Linked DNA regions of Homo sapiens. The protein of the gene in region 2 interacts with the protein of the main gene of each other region in a biochemical or structural test. Each region holds a gene or a part of one and is shown on either strand. Other genes may lie near its edges.

What was found.
Region 1: the proteins of SUMO2 (region 2) and RNF4 form a complex in vitro, tested with the Homo sapiens proteins (15 studies listed by BioGRID, with this or other methods).

What each region holds. Positions count from the first base shown.
Region 1 is NC_000004.12:2,464,107-2,472,112, reverse strand, and holds the start of RNF4 (E3 ubiquitin-protein ligase RNF4), read right to left. Parts: upstream 3,008-8,006; 5' UTR 2,855-3,007; intron 2,661-2,854; exon of another isoform or gene 2,071-2,660; intron 1,127-2,070; exon of another isoform or gene 1,004-1,126; intron 1-1,003. UniProt on the Homo sapiens protein: E3 ubiquitin-protein ligase which binds polysumoylated chains covalently attached to proteins and mediates 'Lys-6'-, 'Lys-11'-, 'Lys-48'- and 'Lys-63'-linked polyubiquitination of those substrates and their subsequent targeting to the proteasome for degradation.
Region 2 is NC_000017.11:75,165,951-75,172,968, reverse strand, and holds part of SUMO2 (small ubiquitin-related modifier 2 isoform a precursor), read left to right. Parts: intron 1-4,567; coding exon 4,568-4,630; 3' UTR 4,631-7,018. UniProt on the Homo sapiens protein: Ubiquitin-like protein that can be covalently attached to proteins as a monomer or as a lysine-linked polymer.

The DNA.
Region 1 (8,006 bases), on a different chromosome or scaffold from region 2:
AACAAGAGAATCAGACTGTCCTTTGAAGCCAGGCATTGACCTTTCTCTAGCTATGAAAGTCCTAGATAGTATTTTTTTTTCCATATAAGGCTGTTTCATTTACATTGAAAGTCTGTTGTTTAGTGTGGCCACCTTCATCAATTATTTTAGCTATATGTTCTGCATAACTTGCTGCAGCTTCTTCATCAACACTTACTGCCTCACCTTACACTTTTACATTACAGAGGTGGCTTCTTCCCTTAAACCTCATGAACTAACCTCTGCCAGTTTCAAACTTTTCTTCTGCAGCTTCCTCACTCTTCACAGAATTGAAGAGAGTTAGTACCTTGCTCCGGATTAGGCTTTCGCTTAAGGGAATGTCATGGATGGTTTGATCTTCTATCCAGACCACTAAAACTTTCTCCCTATCAGCAATAAGGCTGTTTGGCTTATCATTCATGTATTCATTGGAGTAGCATTTTAATTTCAAGAACTCTTCCTCTGCATTCACAACTTGGCTAACTGTCATTCAGCACAAGAGGCCTAGCTTTTGGCCTATCTCAACTTTTGATACGCCTTTCTCACTAAGGATAAACATTTCTTAACTTCACTTAAAGTAAGAGAGATTCAACTGACTGCTCCTTTTGCCTGGACACTGTAGGGTCACTGACTGGCCTAATTTCAATATTGTGTCTCAAGGAATTGAGAGGCCTGAGGAGAGAGACTGGGAACTGCCAGTCAGTGGAGCTGTTAGTACACACCCAACTTTTACCAATTAAGTTCACTGTCTTATATGAGTGCTATTCATGGTAACCCAAAACATTGATCACAGGTCACTATAACAGATGTAACAATGAAAAGGTTTGGGGCTGGGCATGGTGGCTCATGCCTGTAATCCCAGCACTTTGGGAGGCCGAGGCAGGCGGATCACTTGAGGTCAGGCGTTCGAGACCAGCCTGGCCAATATGGTGAAACCCCGTCTCCACTAAAAATACAAAAATTAACTGGGTGTGGTAGTACATGCCTGTAATCCCAGCTACTCCGGAGGCTGAGGCAGGAGAATCACTTGAGCCCAGATGGCAGAGGTTACAGTGAGACCGAGAACACGCCAGTGCACTGCATCCTGGGTGACAGAGTGAGATTCCACCTCAAAAAAAAAAAAAAAAAAAAAGTGTGAAATATTGTGAATTACCCAAACGTGACACAAGAGACACAAAGTGAGCACATGCTGTTGGAAAAATGGCTGGCATTTACAGACTTGCTCGATGAATCCTTGCTATAAACCTTCACCTTGCAAAAAAAAAAAGGCAGTATTTGCAAAACACAATAAAATGAGTTATCTCTTATTCCCTCCATCCTCACCCAGCTACAGGAGGACCACGACTGTTTACTGCTGTATTCCAAGCAGAAAGGTTGGCATACAGGAGACCTCAAAAATACGCTACTTTGATCTTGAGGAGAGTGAAAAATCTTACTCATTTTATGTACAAAGCACAGATGTGCATACATTATATAAAAAGAAATAGTTTACGTATGGCATTAAGATTTCATGAAGATTAGAAAAACAATGTTTACAAAAGGTCCTTACAAAGGTAGTAATTCAAGAAAAGATCAATAAACGATGTGTTAAAGTAAGATTTTTGGAAGCTCAAATTCAGGCAATACAAAAGCCAGCAATATATCTTGCTACTCGAATGCCTCTATTTCACCTCAAACTCACAGATAAAACTGAACCCAATATGTCCTTGTCCATTAAAAAGCAAATCACCAAGAAAGTAACAAAAGATTCCCTTCAATGTCTCTTTTATTGACAGTGGTCCCAAAACTCCTGGTCAATGAATTCAAAACCCAAATCTTGCAGGTAGGACTTAACCTCATCTGCTGCCAAATAGCTGGCTATGTGACCTTGGGCAGACCACTTCACTTTTCTGGACCTCAGTCTCCCCAGTCAGTTGGACAGTCTAAGCCAGGCTCCAGAGCTGAGACCCTACGTCTGGCTCAAGAACTTGGTGCAGAAACAGAACGAAGATTATTAAGTTTGTGAACGTCTATGGGAACTGACAAGTGAAAGACAAAAGCTGAAATCCCTACCAAAACGGCTTGCCCAAGCTCTATCCTTTTCCCTCTTCCCTCGATGGATCAAAGGCGGAAAAGCGGTGTTTACTAGCAACTCTGTTTCGGGTCGTGAGAATCTTCATACACCTGTCTATAGGCGCGCCAGAGCGGTGAAGGGCCCGAGCGGTGCAGGGCTGGGCCGCAAGCCTCACAGTCGCACGTTCCACCAACCACCAGCCGGGGCCCGGAAGCGCGCCCGGAAATCGAGGCCCTACTAAGTTTTAGACTGCGACCTCGGCGCCCCCACGGTCAGGCCCGCACCCGTACTCAGATCCTCCCGACCTACAAAAGGCCCCGCCACGCGGCCCACGCACCCCGGCAAACTCGCAGGCCCCACGATGGCGGGGCGGCGGCGCGAACACACAAAGGAGGCGTCGTCAGCGGGGAACAAAAACCCTGCCCGGGTCTTCCCCCTAACAGCACATCCTGCCCGACTTTCCAAGTGACCTTGGGGGCGTTCCTGCCCCTCCCAGAGTCTCAGTTTCCCTTCCTAGGCTAGGAACTAAGCCCCATGGCCGCGGCCCCCCAGGGTGAGCCGAGACCCAGACGCAGACCTCCTAACTTCTGTTGCCCGCGCCAAGCCGGGCTCGGTGCGCCCGCGCGGACGGCAGTGCGAGCGACCAGAGCTGGCTCGAGGTCCCGGGCTGCAAAGCCTCGGCTGGGTCAAGCCGCGCAGCGCGGCTCCCCCAAGAGGCGCGGGCCGAGGCCTCTGTAGGCCGCGAAGCTGCCTAAACCTCGCATCTGCAAGGCCCTGACTTACCGCTGCTTTCCCGCAAAGCTCGGCCTAACCTGGAGCTAGTTAGGTCCGCAGGCGCCACCGCCGGCGCACTCCGGAGAAGAAGCTCCTTCTTCAGCCGCCCAGGAGAGCTCCTCGAGAAAGATGCCGCCGCCTCAACAGCAACCCACTTCCGCTTCGGAGGCCTCGGCTCCGCCCCCCATCATGTCCCCATTGGCCGCCCGCCTACTCTACTTCCGCGGTCGGCCGGGTAAGGACAAATTTTTTAATCCTATTGGATAAGAAAACCATCTGTTACCACTTTAAAACGCGCCTCTTTCCGCCCCCGCCCACAATCGAGCGCACTAACTCGCACCTTCCGGCAAGAGACGGCGCGGGCGCGCCCCGCCCGCAAGGTTTTTCGGGAGTCACGGTCTGAGGGCGACCCGGGCGACCCGGTCGCCCGTGCCCGGCTGCCACTGACCGCTCCAACGCCGCCAGGGACGACCCGCCAGCTGCCTCCGGAGCCGAGCAGGCCCCGAACCTTCCCATTCCTAGATTTCCAGCCGCACAACAGCCGCGGTGCCCCTGGCTCGACGCAGCTGGCCGGAGGCGCGGAGCTGGTCGTTCGTCCCGCCCGCCGTTCCGCGCCCCTCTCCCGGCTCTTGTTTCCTCGCCTCTTAACGAGGCCTTTGTGAGGAAGGTTGCTGGGCCTTGGGACTCTGACGATCGGCTGGAAACCAGGCCTGGCCCTGTTTCAGCATCCCCGCGTGCCAAGCCCTGGGCCGGCGTGCGGGTCCCTGCCCCTGCGAGGAAGCTGGGACTTTTGCAGGCCTGGGTGGAGACGTGTACATAACAGAGGAAGAGTGTGGAGGATTGGAGGACTCAGGGCAGCACGGCAGAGGTGCATGCAGGTCCCCGGTCGGACTGGAGAATGGGCGGTGGGTTTCTTGAGCTCCAGTCCCTGAGCTCGACTTTGACGTGGGTTTAGCAACCAGGAAAAAAGCCCACCTTGTCCCTGCTGCCTGAGAATACCCAGACCTTAGTCCATGGCCAGCATCTCTGGTCCCTCGGCACCCTCAGGCAACGTGAAGGTCACCCCAAATGCCTTGGGTTACATTGTTTCCTTACAGTGAGTTTGTTTGTTTTAGTGGCGCGATCTCGGCTCACTGCAAGCTCTAACCTCCTGGGTTCACGTGATTCTCCTGCCTCAGCCTCCCGAATAGCTGGGATTACAGGCGCCTGCCACCACGCCCGGCTAATTTTCTTTGTATTTTTAGTAGAGATGGAGTTCCATCATGTTGGCCAGGCTGGTCTCGAGCTCCTGACCTCAGGTGATCCACCCTCCTTGGCCTCCAAAAGTGCTGGGATTACTGGTGTGAGCCACCTCGCCCGGCCACCTTACAGTGAGTTTCTAACCTCGAAAATGGAGTCAAATAACGGAATGACAAGGCAGATAGAAACCAGAGCATTAACGTTTTTGTGTTGCATTTACAAACAATATGTGTTTGCTATTTTTCGTAATTGTAAGGAAATCTGGCATGGTAGAGTATCTGATAGATAAATGTAATTCTCATGTAAAATATCTAAGTATTTGTGTTTTTTGTTTGTTTGTTTGTTTGTTTTGAGACGGAGTCTCGCTCTGTCGCCCAGGCTGGAGTGCAGTGGCGCGATCTCGGCTCACTGCAAGCTCCGCATCCCGGGTTCACGCCATTCTCCTGCCTCAGCCTCCCAAGTAGCTGGGACTACAGGCGCCCGCCACCACGCCTGGCTAATTTTTTTTTTTTTGTATTTTTTAGTAGAGACGGGGTTTCACCGTGTTAGCCAGGATGGTCTTGATCTCCTGACCTCGTGATCCACCCGCCTCGGCCTCCCAAAGTGCTGGGATTACAGGCGTGGGCCACCGCACCCAGTCTTTTTTTTTTTTTTTTTTTTTGAGACGAGGTGTCACTCTGTCAGCCAGGCTGGAGTGCAGTGGCACAATCATGACTCACTCACTGCAGCCTCGACCTCCCCAGGTTTAGATGATCAACCCACCTTGGCCTCCTGAGTAGCTGGGACCACAGGTGTGTGCCACCATGCCTGGCTAATTTTTTTGTATTTTTTTTTTGTAGACACTGGCTTTCGCCATGTTGCCCAGTCTTGTCTTGAAGCCCCGGGCTCAAGTTATCTGCTCACCTCGACCTCCCAAAGTGTTGAGATTACAGGCATGAGCCATCACACCCTGCCCTAAGTATTTGATTTTTGATAGCGACTGTAAGTTGAAAGGTATAACATTTTCCGAAGTTTGTGATTATAATTGGAGCAAAGAGAACTTAAAAGTTTAAAAGAAATGAAGACATTTAATATATCTATGAGAATTATTTAAATATTAATACTTGATAAGGCAGACAACTGAAATGCTAAAAAATAAAATTAGATTCTACGTGTATAAATGCAGTTGAAAATGTTTAAGAGAATTTCAGTTCATAAATGGGGCCGTACATGATTAATCAAAATGGTGGTTAAAAATGATCAGATTTAGGGCGGGCATGGTGGCTCTCACCTGTAATCTTAACACTTTCGGAGGCTGAGGTGGGAGGATTGCTTGAGCTGAGGAGTTTATAGATGAGCCTGGGTAACGTGGTAAAACCCCCTCTCCACACACACACACACAAATAATAATTAGCCGGGTGTGGTGGCATGTCCCTGTGGTCCCAGCTACTCAGGAGGCTGAGGCAGCAGGATTACTTGAGCCCAGGAGGTCATGGCTGCAGTAAGCTGTGATTGCACGTCAGCTTGATTGACAGAATGAGACCCTCTCTCTCTCAAAAAAAAAAAATCAGATTTAGAAAAAGTAATATTAGTAATTTGTATTTTACAGCCTAAGGAAAAGTTAGGGTTTTCTGTTTGTAACTGTAATATATTGAAGATGTGATGTTGAAAAAGTCTCTATAAATACCAGTTTCATGCTCAAAGACTGCCTTCAGCCAGGGCAACATAGTGAGACCTCATCTCTACTAAAAATAAAAAATTAGCTGGGTATGGTGGTAAGTGCATGCAGTCCCAGCTAGTAGGGAGGATGAGGCAAGAGGATCACTTGAGCCCGGGAGTTTAAGGCTGTATGAGCTATCATCACGTCACTGCACTCCAGCCTGGGTGACAAAGCGAGACCCTGCCTCAAAAACAAAAACAAAAGCTGCTTTCAAGTCTTCTCCAAGCCTCACTTGCACTGAACTTGTTCCTTCACAAATAGCGCTTCCCTTGGGCCCTGAACGCCTGCAGCTTAGAGAAAAGACCGGCACCTTGGTGCTCCCATAGTCCCACAAGTCGAAACCAGCTGAATGCAGGTTCCTGGGCCTCACACCAGCTACTAAATCTGTTTCTTCACTATTTCCAAAGAAAGCCCCTGCCCAAGTGGGTCTCAGATGCTATCAACAAGGATCTTCTGACTAGCCTGTACTCAGGCAAAATGTCCACTCCCCAGGCAGTCCAGCCAGGAAAGGTTCAGAGAGGGATTGTCAGCACTAGCTGGGCCATATCTCACTCTGGCTGGCCCCCTTTGGGGGAGTAGCTTGATTCTCTGTAAAGAGCCTATGCAGGGAGGGAAGGCAGGGGCCCCTAGTGTGAAGGCCCTGGGCTCTTAAGGGTGTGCCCCTTAGCTGCCTGTGCAGGGAGGGGAGGCAGGGGCCCCCAGTGTGAAGGCCCTGGGCTCTTAAGGGTGTGCCCCTTAGCTGCCTGTGCAGGGAGGGGAGGCAGGGGCCCCCAGTGTGAAGGCCCTGGGCTCTTAAGGGTGTGCCCCTTAGCTGTTGCTCTGGAACAAACCACCCCAAAGCTTGATACTTTGAATGACAGACATTTATTGTTGCTCATGAATCTATAAGACAGCAGGGTTGGGGGAGGTTCTTGTCCGGCTGCGCTCTCATTTTGTGCTCTGCTAGTCTAGGATGGCCTCTGAGATGGTGTCCTCCACATGGTGTCTGATCCCAGCAGGCCACCCTAGTCATGCTCACATGGGGCCTGGCGAAGGTTCCAAGAGAACAAGTGGGAGCTCCAAGGCCACCTGAGGCCCAGACTCAGAACTGGCACGTGGTCACTTCTGTTGCACCCTATTAGCCAAAGAAAGTCACTAGGCCAGACCAGATGCAAGGGCTGGGGGAATAGACTCCACCTCTCGATGGGAGGTGTAAAGTCACAAGGCAAGGGGCAGGGATACACAGACATTTTGCCATCACTCTATCACACAATGCCTACTCCCAGGCCACAACTTTAGGGAATGGTCCGAGGCCTGCTCCCACCTAGGTTTGTATGAGGAGAGGCCCCACGTGCTCTCAAGCTAGCTCTAAGCGGCTGCTCAGTCCAGGAGGGGGCAGGGGAAGACCTTGTTACCTGCCAACCAACAGTGTTGCCAATAGTACCCTCAATTTGTTAGCTGCCACATCTCCCCTCTGCTCCAGAGGCCAACCTTCTAGGTGAAGGGTAATTCCCCTGCCTTGCCACAGTGCTTGCTTCAGGCACCCATGCAGACCTTCCCTCACTGCAGGAACTGGCTCAGCCCAAGTATGTTCAATTCAGGCCAATGAGACTGGGGCAACTGTTCTTTGTTCCTCAGGCTGGAACTGCTACCAGAGTGGAGACTGAGCTCCTGGATCGGGTACATCCTGAAGTCTGCTGCCTTTGGATTGGCATTATGAGAGCTAATAAATCCCCCTTTGAAACCCCCAGAGCTCAGAGGGGCTTTCTAGGCCAGGCATCATCAATGTATTCCATCAATATCAAATTAAATGGGTTTGGATCACACAACACGGGATATGAGCAATGTTTATTTCTTTTTTTTTGAGATGGAGTTTGACTCTTGTCACCAGGCTGGAGTGGTGCGATCTCAGCTCACTGCAACCTCCGTCTCCTGGGTTCAAGCGACTCCATTCTCTTGCCTCAGCTTCCCGAGTAACTGGGATTACAGGCGCCAGCCACTACGCCCAGCTAATTTTTGTATTTTTAGTAGCGACGGGGTTTCACCATGTTGGCCAGGCTGGTCTTAAACTCCTGACCTCAGGTGATCCACCTGCCTCAGCCTCCCAAAGTGCTGGGATTACAGGTTTGAGCCCCCTTGCCTGGCCAATGTTTATTTCTTTAAATGAAATTTAATCTGCTCCCAGCTGCAATTCTACAGAGATGTGGAAATTCTTCTCCTTACCTACCTGGGTGGTAAAATCCT
Region 2 (7,018 bases):
TATTTTGAAGACATTTCAACTGGTGACAGTCTCTCAAAAGGAATTACGGGCCAGGTGCACTTGTTCACACCTGTCATCCTAGCACTTCAGGAGGCTGAGGCAGGCAGATTGCTTGAGGTCAGGAGTTTGAGACCAGCCTGGACAATATGGTGAAACCCCGTGTCTGCCAAAAAATACAAAAATTAGCCAGGCATCGCCGGGCGCAGTGGCTCATGCCTGTGATCCCAGCACTTTGGGAGGCCGAGGTGGGCGGATCACCTGAGGTTGGGAGTTTGAGACCACTCCGACCAACATGGAGAAACCCCGTCTCTACTAAAAATACAAAATTAGCTGGGTGTGGTGGCCTGTAATCCCAGCTGCTCGGGAGGCTGAGGCAGGAGAATCGCTTGAACCCAGGAGGCAGAGGTTGCAGTGAGCCGGAGATCACGCCATTGCACTCGAGCATGGGTAACGAGCGAAACTCAAAAAAAAAAAAAAAAAATTTAGCCAGGCATGATGGTGCACGCCTGTAGTCCCAGCTACTCAGGAGGCTGAGGCAGGAGAATCACCTGAACCCGAGAGGCGGAGATTAAAGTCAGCAGAGATAGTGCCACTGCACTCCAGCCTGGGTAACAGCCCCTGTCTCAAAAAAAAAAAAAAAAAAGTCTGGGTACAGTAGCTCACGACTGTAATCCTAGCACTTTGGGAGGCCAAGGCAAGTTGATCACCTGAGGTCAGCAGTTCAAGACCAGCCTGGCCAACATGGCGAAACTACCCCGTCTCTACTAAAAATACAAAAATTAGCCGGGCATGGTGGTGCTCACCTGTAATCCCATCCCAGCTACTCGGGAGATTGAGCCAGGAGAATCTGGGCGGGGGAAAGGTGTCAGACAGTCGAGGTTGCAGTGAGCGCGGAGGTCATGCCACTTCACTCTAGCTTGGGTGAAAGAGTGAAACCCTGTCAAAAAAAAAAAAAAAGGCGCAATTATGGTATGTAGCCACAAGGAGGAGCTAAATTCTATTGATAAATGAGGCTGGTACAGGAACCTCATTTTTTAAAGGCATTTACAGTTTCACTGTAAAACTTCACATTTGGATAATTTTGTTTTAGTAGATAGATGACAGGCTTGTTTGGTTTTAAAAGAAATAGTAAAAAGTATCTATTGTGCTGTACTCTCAGTTATTAGAATGTATTTCCTGTCTTTAAGCCCTCCTTACCCACCACTAAAACGGGATTATCTGCTATAGTAGTTACAAATATTAAACAAGGAGTTATTTGTTTGGATCCGTGACCTTGAGGCATTTTAAAATCTTCAGGTTGAATTTGCAATTCATTTTACTTCATTTTGAAGAATTTGGAATTGATTCGTTTTAGAATTATTCTCCCAATATTTGTTAGATAGCAGGATTGTGATAAATTAAAACATCTTAGCAGGCCTCCTGCCTCCCCAGCTTTTTTTTATTTTTTTATTTTTCGAGACGGAGTTTTGCCCTGTCTCCCAGACTGGAGTGCAGTGGCGTGATCTCAGCTCACTGCAACCTCTGCTTCCTGGGTTCAAGCGATTCTCCTGCCTCAGCTTCCCGAGTAGCTGGGATTACAGGCGCCCACCATGATGCCTGGCTAATTTTGTTTTTATTTTATTTGTTTATGTTGTTTTTATTTTATTTTCTGTATTGACGGAGTCAGTACAAAATTAGCTGGGCATGATGGCGCATGCCTGTAATCCCAGCTACTTGGGAGGCTGAGGCAGGAGAATTGCTTGACCCGGGAGGCAGAGGTTGCAGTGAGCCAAGATTGCGCCATTGCACTCCACCCTGGGCAACAACAGCGAAACTCCATCGCAAGAAAAAATAGAAAAACACAAATGTAGTCATACAATAAGCTGCTTTGCTCCTTGGGGTGTACTTTTTTTTTTTTTTAACTGCCCCTTACAGAGCATGGCTAACTTATATAGTCAGTGCACCGAGTTGGCTGCTGCTTAGTTTTAAAATTGTGTTTTTAGCCTAACACTGTATCTACTGTATCTTAAAGATATTTTCATTTCTGTACATGAAAATCTTATTTTTTAACGGCTATATGGTATTTAATATCTGAGCATACTATGTTTTATTAATTTGGGTTTTTTTTTTTTTTTTTTGAGACCTGGAGTCTCGCACTGTCACCCAGGCTGGAGTGCAGTGGCGTGATCTCAGCTCACTATAACCTCCACCTCCCAGGTTCAAGTGATTCTCCTGCCTCAGCCTCCTGAGTGGCTGGGATTACAGGCACCTGCCACCATGCCCAGCTAATTTTTTGTATTTTTAGTAGAGACGGGGTTTCACTATGTTGGCCAGGCTGGTCTCGAATGACTGACCTTGTGAGCCACCACGCCTGCCGTGGGTTTTTTGTTTTGGTGTTTTTTGTTTTTGTTTTTGTTTTTTGAGACAGAGTCTTGCTCTGTTGCCAGGCTGGAGTGCAGTGGGGCAATCACAGCTCACTGTAACCTCCACTTCACGGGTTCAAGTGATTCTCCTGCCTCAGCCTCCCGAGTAGCTGGGACTACAGGCGTGCGCAACCACACCCAGCTAATTTTTGTATTTTTGGTAGAAACAGGGTTTCACCATGTTGGCCAGGATGGGTTTGACCTGTTGACCTGGTGATCCGCCCACCTTGGCCTCCCAAAGTGTTGGGATTATAGGCGTGAGCCCCGGCGCCCAGCCTAATTTGGGTTTTTATTGAGATTTGTTTTCAGTCTTTGCTAAGCAGTGCAGCGAGATTCTTTAAACATATCACCCTTCTGTGGGCCCTCGACACAGACATATTCAGCTTTCATTTATTTAATTTTTTTGAGACAGTTTCTTGTCACATGCAATGGCATGATCTTGGCTCACTGCAACCTCCACCTCCTGGGTTCAAGTGATTCTCCTGCCTCAGCCTCCCAAGTAGCTGGGATTACAGGCGTGCAGGCGTGCGCCACCACGCCCAGCTAATTTTTTTGTTTTGTTTTTTGTATTTTTAGTAGAGACTGGGTTTCACCATTTTGGCCAGGCTGGTCTTGAACTCCCGACCTCAGGTGATCTGCCTGCCTCGGCCTCCCAAAGTGTTGAGATTACAGGTGTGAGCTGCCACACCCGCCCCCCCCCACCTTTTTTTTTTTTTTTGAGACCAAGTCTCACTCTGTCACCGGTGTTGGAGTCCAGTGGCACAATCTTGGCTCACCACAACCTCTGCTTCCTGGGTTCAAGCGATTCTCCTGCCTCAGCCTCCCGAATAGCTGGGATTACGGGCACATGCCACCATGCCCGGCTAATTTAAAAAATATTTTTAGGCCGGGTGCAGTGGTTCACGCCTATAATCCCAGCATTTTGGGAGGCCGAGGAGGGTGGATCATGAGGTCAGGAGATCTAGACTGTCCTGGCTAACACGGTGAAACCCCGTCTCTACTAAAAATACAAAAAATTAGCCAGGCGTTGTGGCGGGCACCTGTAGTCCCAGCTACTCGGGAGGCTGAGGCAGGAGAATGGCGTGAACCCAGGAGGCGGAGCTTGCAGTGAGCTGAGATCCTGCCACTGGACTCCAGCCTGGGCGACACAGGGAGACTCCGTCTCAAAAAAAAAAAAAAAATTTTTTTTTAATAGGGATGGGGTGTCACCAGGTTGGCCAGGCTGGTCTTGAACTCCTGACCTCAGGTGACCCGCCCACTTCAGCCTCCCAAAGTGTTGAGATTACAGGAGTGAGCCATTGTGCGTGGCCCTAGCCTTTTTTTCTCTTTTTTTGATACAGGATCTTTTGCTTTGTCACTCAGGCTGGAGTGAGCTGGTGTGGTCTCAGTTCACTGCAGCCTTGATCTTATGGGCTCAATTGATCCTCCCACCTCGGCTTCCTGAGTAGCTGGGAGTATGGACATGTGTCACCATGGCTGGCTAATTTTTTTTTTTTTTCCTTTTTTTTTTTGTAGAGATGTTGTCTCCCTATGTTGCCCAGGTGGTCTCGGTCTCTTGGGCTCAAGCAATCCTCCAATGTTGGCCTCCAGTAGTACTGGGATTACAGGCATGAGCCACCGCACCTGGCTAATATTCTGCTTTTTACTCAAAAACTAAGTTTTGGCTGGGCGCAGTGGCTCACACCTGTAATCCCAGCACTTTGGGAGGCCGAGGCAGGCAGATCACTTGAGCTCAGGAGTTTGAGACCAGCCTGGCCAACATGACGAAACCCCATCTCTACTAAAAATACAAAAAAATTAGCTGGGCATGGTGGCGGATGCCTGTAATCTCAGCTACTTGGGAGACTGAGGCAGGAGAATTGCTTGAACCTGAGGGGTGGACGTTGCAGTGAGCTGAGATCACGCCACTGCAGTCCAGCCTGGGTGACAGAAATCCTGTCTCAAAAAAAAAACAAAAAAGTTTTATCTAATAGTCATAAAAAAGGAAGCCAAGTGAAAAATTACTTAAACCAAGTGTGTTGATACATTAAGCTATGAGACATCTAAAATAATGAAACTTGGAACTTAGTGGAACATGTACATGTTTTCAGCATACTTAAACCCAAAAATCATTAATTTTCAGAACTTAATCAGTGCTTTTACATTTGTTTTTTCTTTTATGCTAGTTGGAAATGGAGGATGAAGATACAATTGATGTGTTCCAACAGCAGACGGGAGGTGTCTACTGAAAAGGGAACCTGCTTCTTTACTCCAGAACTCTGTTCTTTAAAGACCAAGATTACATTCTCAATTAGAAAACTGCAATTTGGTTCCACCACATCCTGACTACTACCGTATAGTTTTCTCTATTCTTTCATTTCCCCCTTCCCCATTCCTTTATTGTACATAAAGTAACTGGTATATGTGCACAAGCATATTGCATTTTTTTTTTTTTTAACTAAACAGCCAATGGTATGTTTTGATTGACATCAAGTGGAGACGGGATGGGGAAAAATACTGATTCTGTGAAAATACCCCCTTTCTCCATTAGTGGCATGCTCATTCAGCTCTTATCTTTATATTCCAGTAAGTTATTTTGCTCTCACTGTTTTAACAAAAAAAAAAAACAACAACATAAAAATCCTTGCATACCTTGTTCAATTGGAGAATTTTAATGTTTTTCATTTATCATTGTAAAACCAAGGACAATTTTATAACTTTTTTGTACGTAGCTGTTACATGTAGGGCAATCTGTCTTTAAGTAGGGATAAATTACTCTAAAACAAAAAAGAATCCTAGATAGTTTTCCCTTCAAGTCAAGCGTCTTGTTGTTTAAATAAACTTCTTGTTTAAAATGAGCTGTTTTCTTTATTCTGAGAAATATTAAATAGAAAATTGAGGCTTAGAAAAAACATAAATAGGCCTGCTTAGAAGTAACATTTCAAGAAGGAAATAAAGCTACTTGGTGTTTCTGACAGACTGATACTGATGCCAAACAAAGAATAACAGTTTTATAAATATCACCTTGTTCCAAAAGTTTCTCTAGGTCCCATGTTAATATGCAAGTATACTAGCAGAAAAATTGGGCCATAGTATCGTGGATTTCCAGGTATTTTCTGTATATTAAGTGAGGCACGGAGCATAGGGTATAGGGTAGCACATGTGGCAAGGAAAAAGTTCTGATTTTGCCTTTGTTGCTGATAAAACACTGAACCATTCTAGCCTGCACTTATCATAAGTAAATACTCCCTAACCTAAAATAAAGTTTTCGTTCCTTATTCAAGGATTTTTTTTTTGAGACGGAGTTTTCCTCTTGTTGCCCAGGCTGGAGTGTAGTGGTGCAATTTCAGCTCACTGCAACCTCAGCCTCCTGAGTAGCTGGGGGGTCATAGGTGCATGCCACCACGCCCAGCTAATTTTTTTTCTATTTTTAGTCGAGACAGGGTTTTATCACGTATGCCAGGCTGGTCTCGAACTCCTGACCTTAGGTGATCCACCCGCCTCAGCCTCCCAAAGTGCAGGGATTACGGCATGAGCCACCACGCCTGGCCTATTCAAGAATATTGAGGGACAGAAAATATCTATATATATCCATCCTCAGAACCTTAAATATACAGGTCACTACAGTCTTTATTATTTTAATTTTTGTTTCTTAGGGTTTCTTTTGGTGGTGGTTTTTTGAGATGGAGCATCATTCCGTCTCCCAGGCTGTAGTGCAGTGGCACAATCTTGGCTCACTGCAAGCTCCGCCTCCCGGGTTCACGCCATTCTCCTGCCTCAGCCTCCCGTCTTAGGTCTTTTTGAAAGAGGTTATGCCTCTGTTGCCTAGTCTGGAGTGGTGCAATGGTGTGATCTTGGCTCACTGCAACCTCCACCTCCAGGTCTTAAGAGATCCTCCCTGCTCAGCCTCGTGAGTAGCTAGAACCGCAGGTGCATGCCACCACAGCTAATTCTTGTATTTTTTATAGAGAGTGTTTCGCCATATTGTCCAGGCCGGGCTCAAACCCCTGATCTTAAGTGATCTATCTGCCTTAGCCTCCCAATGTGCTGGGTTTACAGGCGTGAGCCACTATGCCCAGCCCCTTTTTAATTTTTTAAAAATGTTTATTTTTGAGATGGAGTTTCGCTCTTGTTGCCCCAACTGGAGACCAATGACATGATCTCAGCTCACTGCAACCTCCGCCTCCCGGGTTCAACTGATTCTCCTCCCTCAGCCTCCGGAAAAGCTGGGATTACAAGCATCTACCATCATACCTGGCTAATTCTGTATTTTTAGTAGAGAAGGGGTTTCTCTATGTTGGTCAGGCTGGTCTCCACCTCCCGACCTCAGGTGATCTGCCTGCCTTGGCCTCCCAAAGTGCTGAGATTACAGGCTTGAGCCACTGTGCCCGGCCAAATTTTTATTATTTTTAAATTAGAGGTGGGGTCTCACCATGTTGACCAGTTTGGTCTCGAACTTCTGGCCTCAGTCCCTTGTCTTGGCCTCCCAAAGTGTTGGGGTTTCAGGTGTTAGACCCCATGCCCAACCACTACAGTTTTTGTTTTTGTTTTTGTTTTTTTTTCAGACGGAGTCTTGCTCTGTCGCCCAGGCTGGAGTGCAGTGGCGCAATCTTGGCTCACGGCAAGCTCCACCTCCC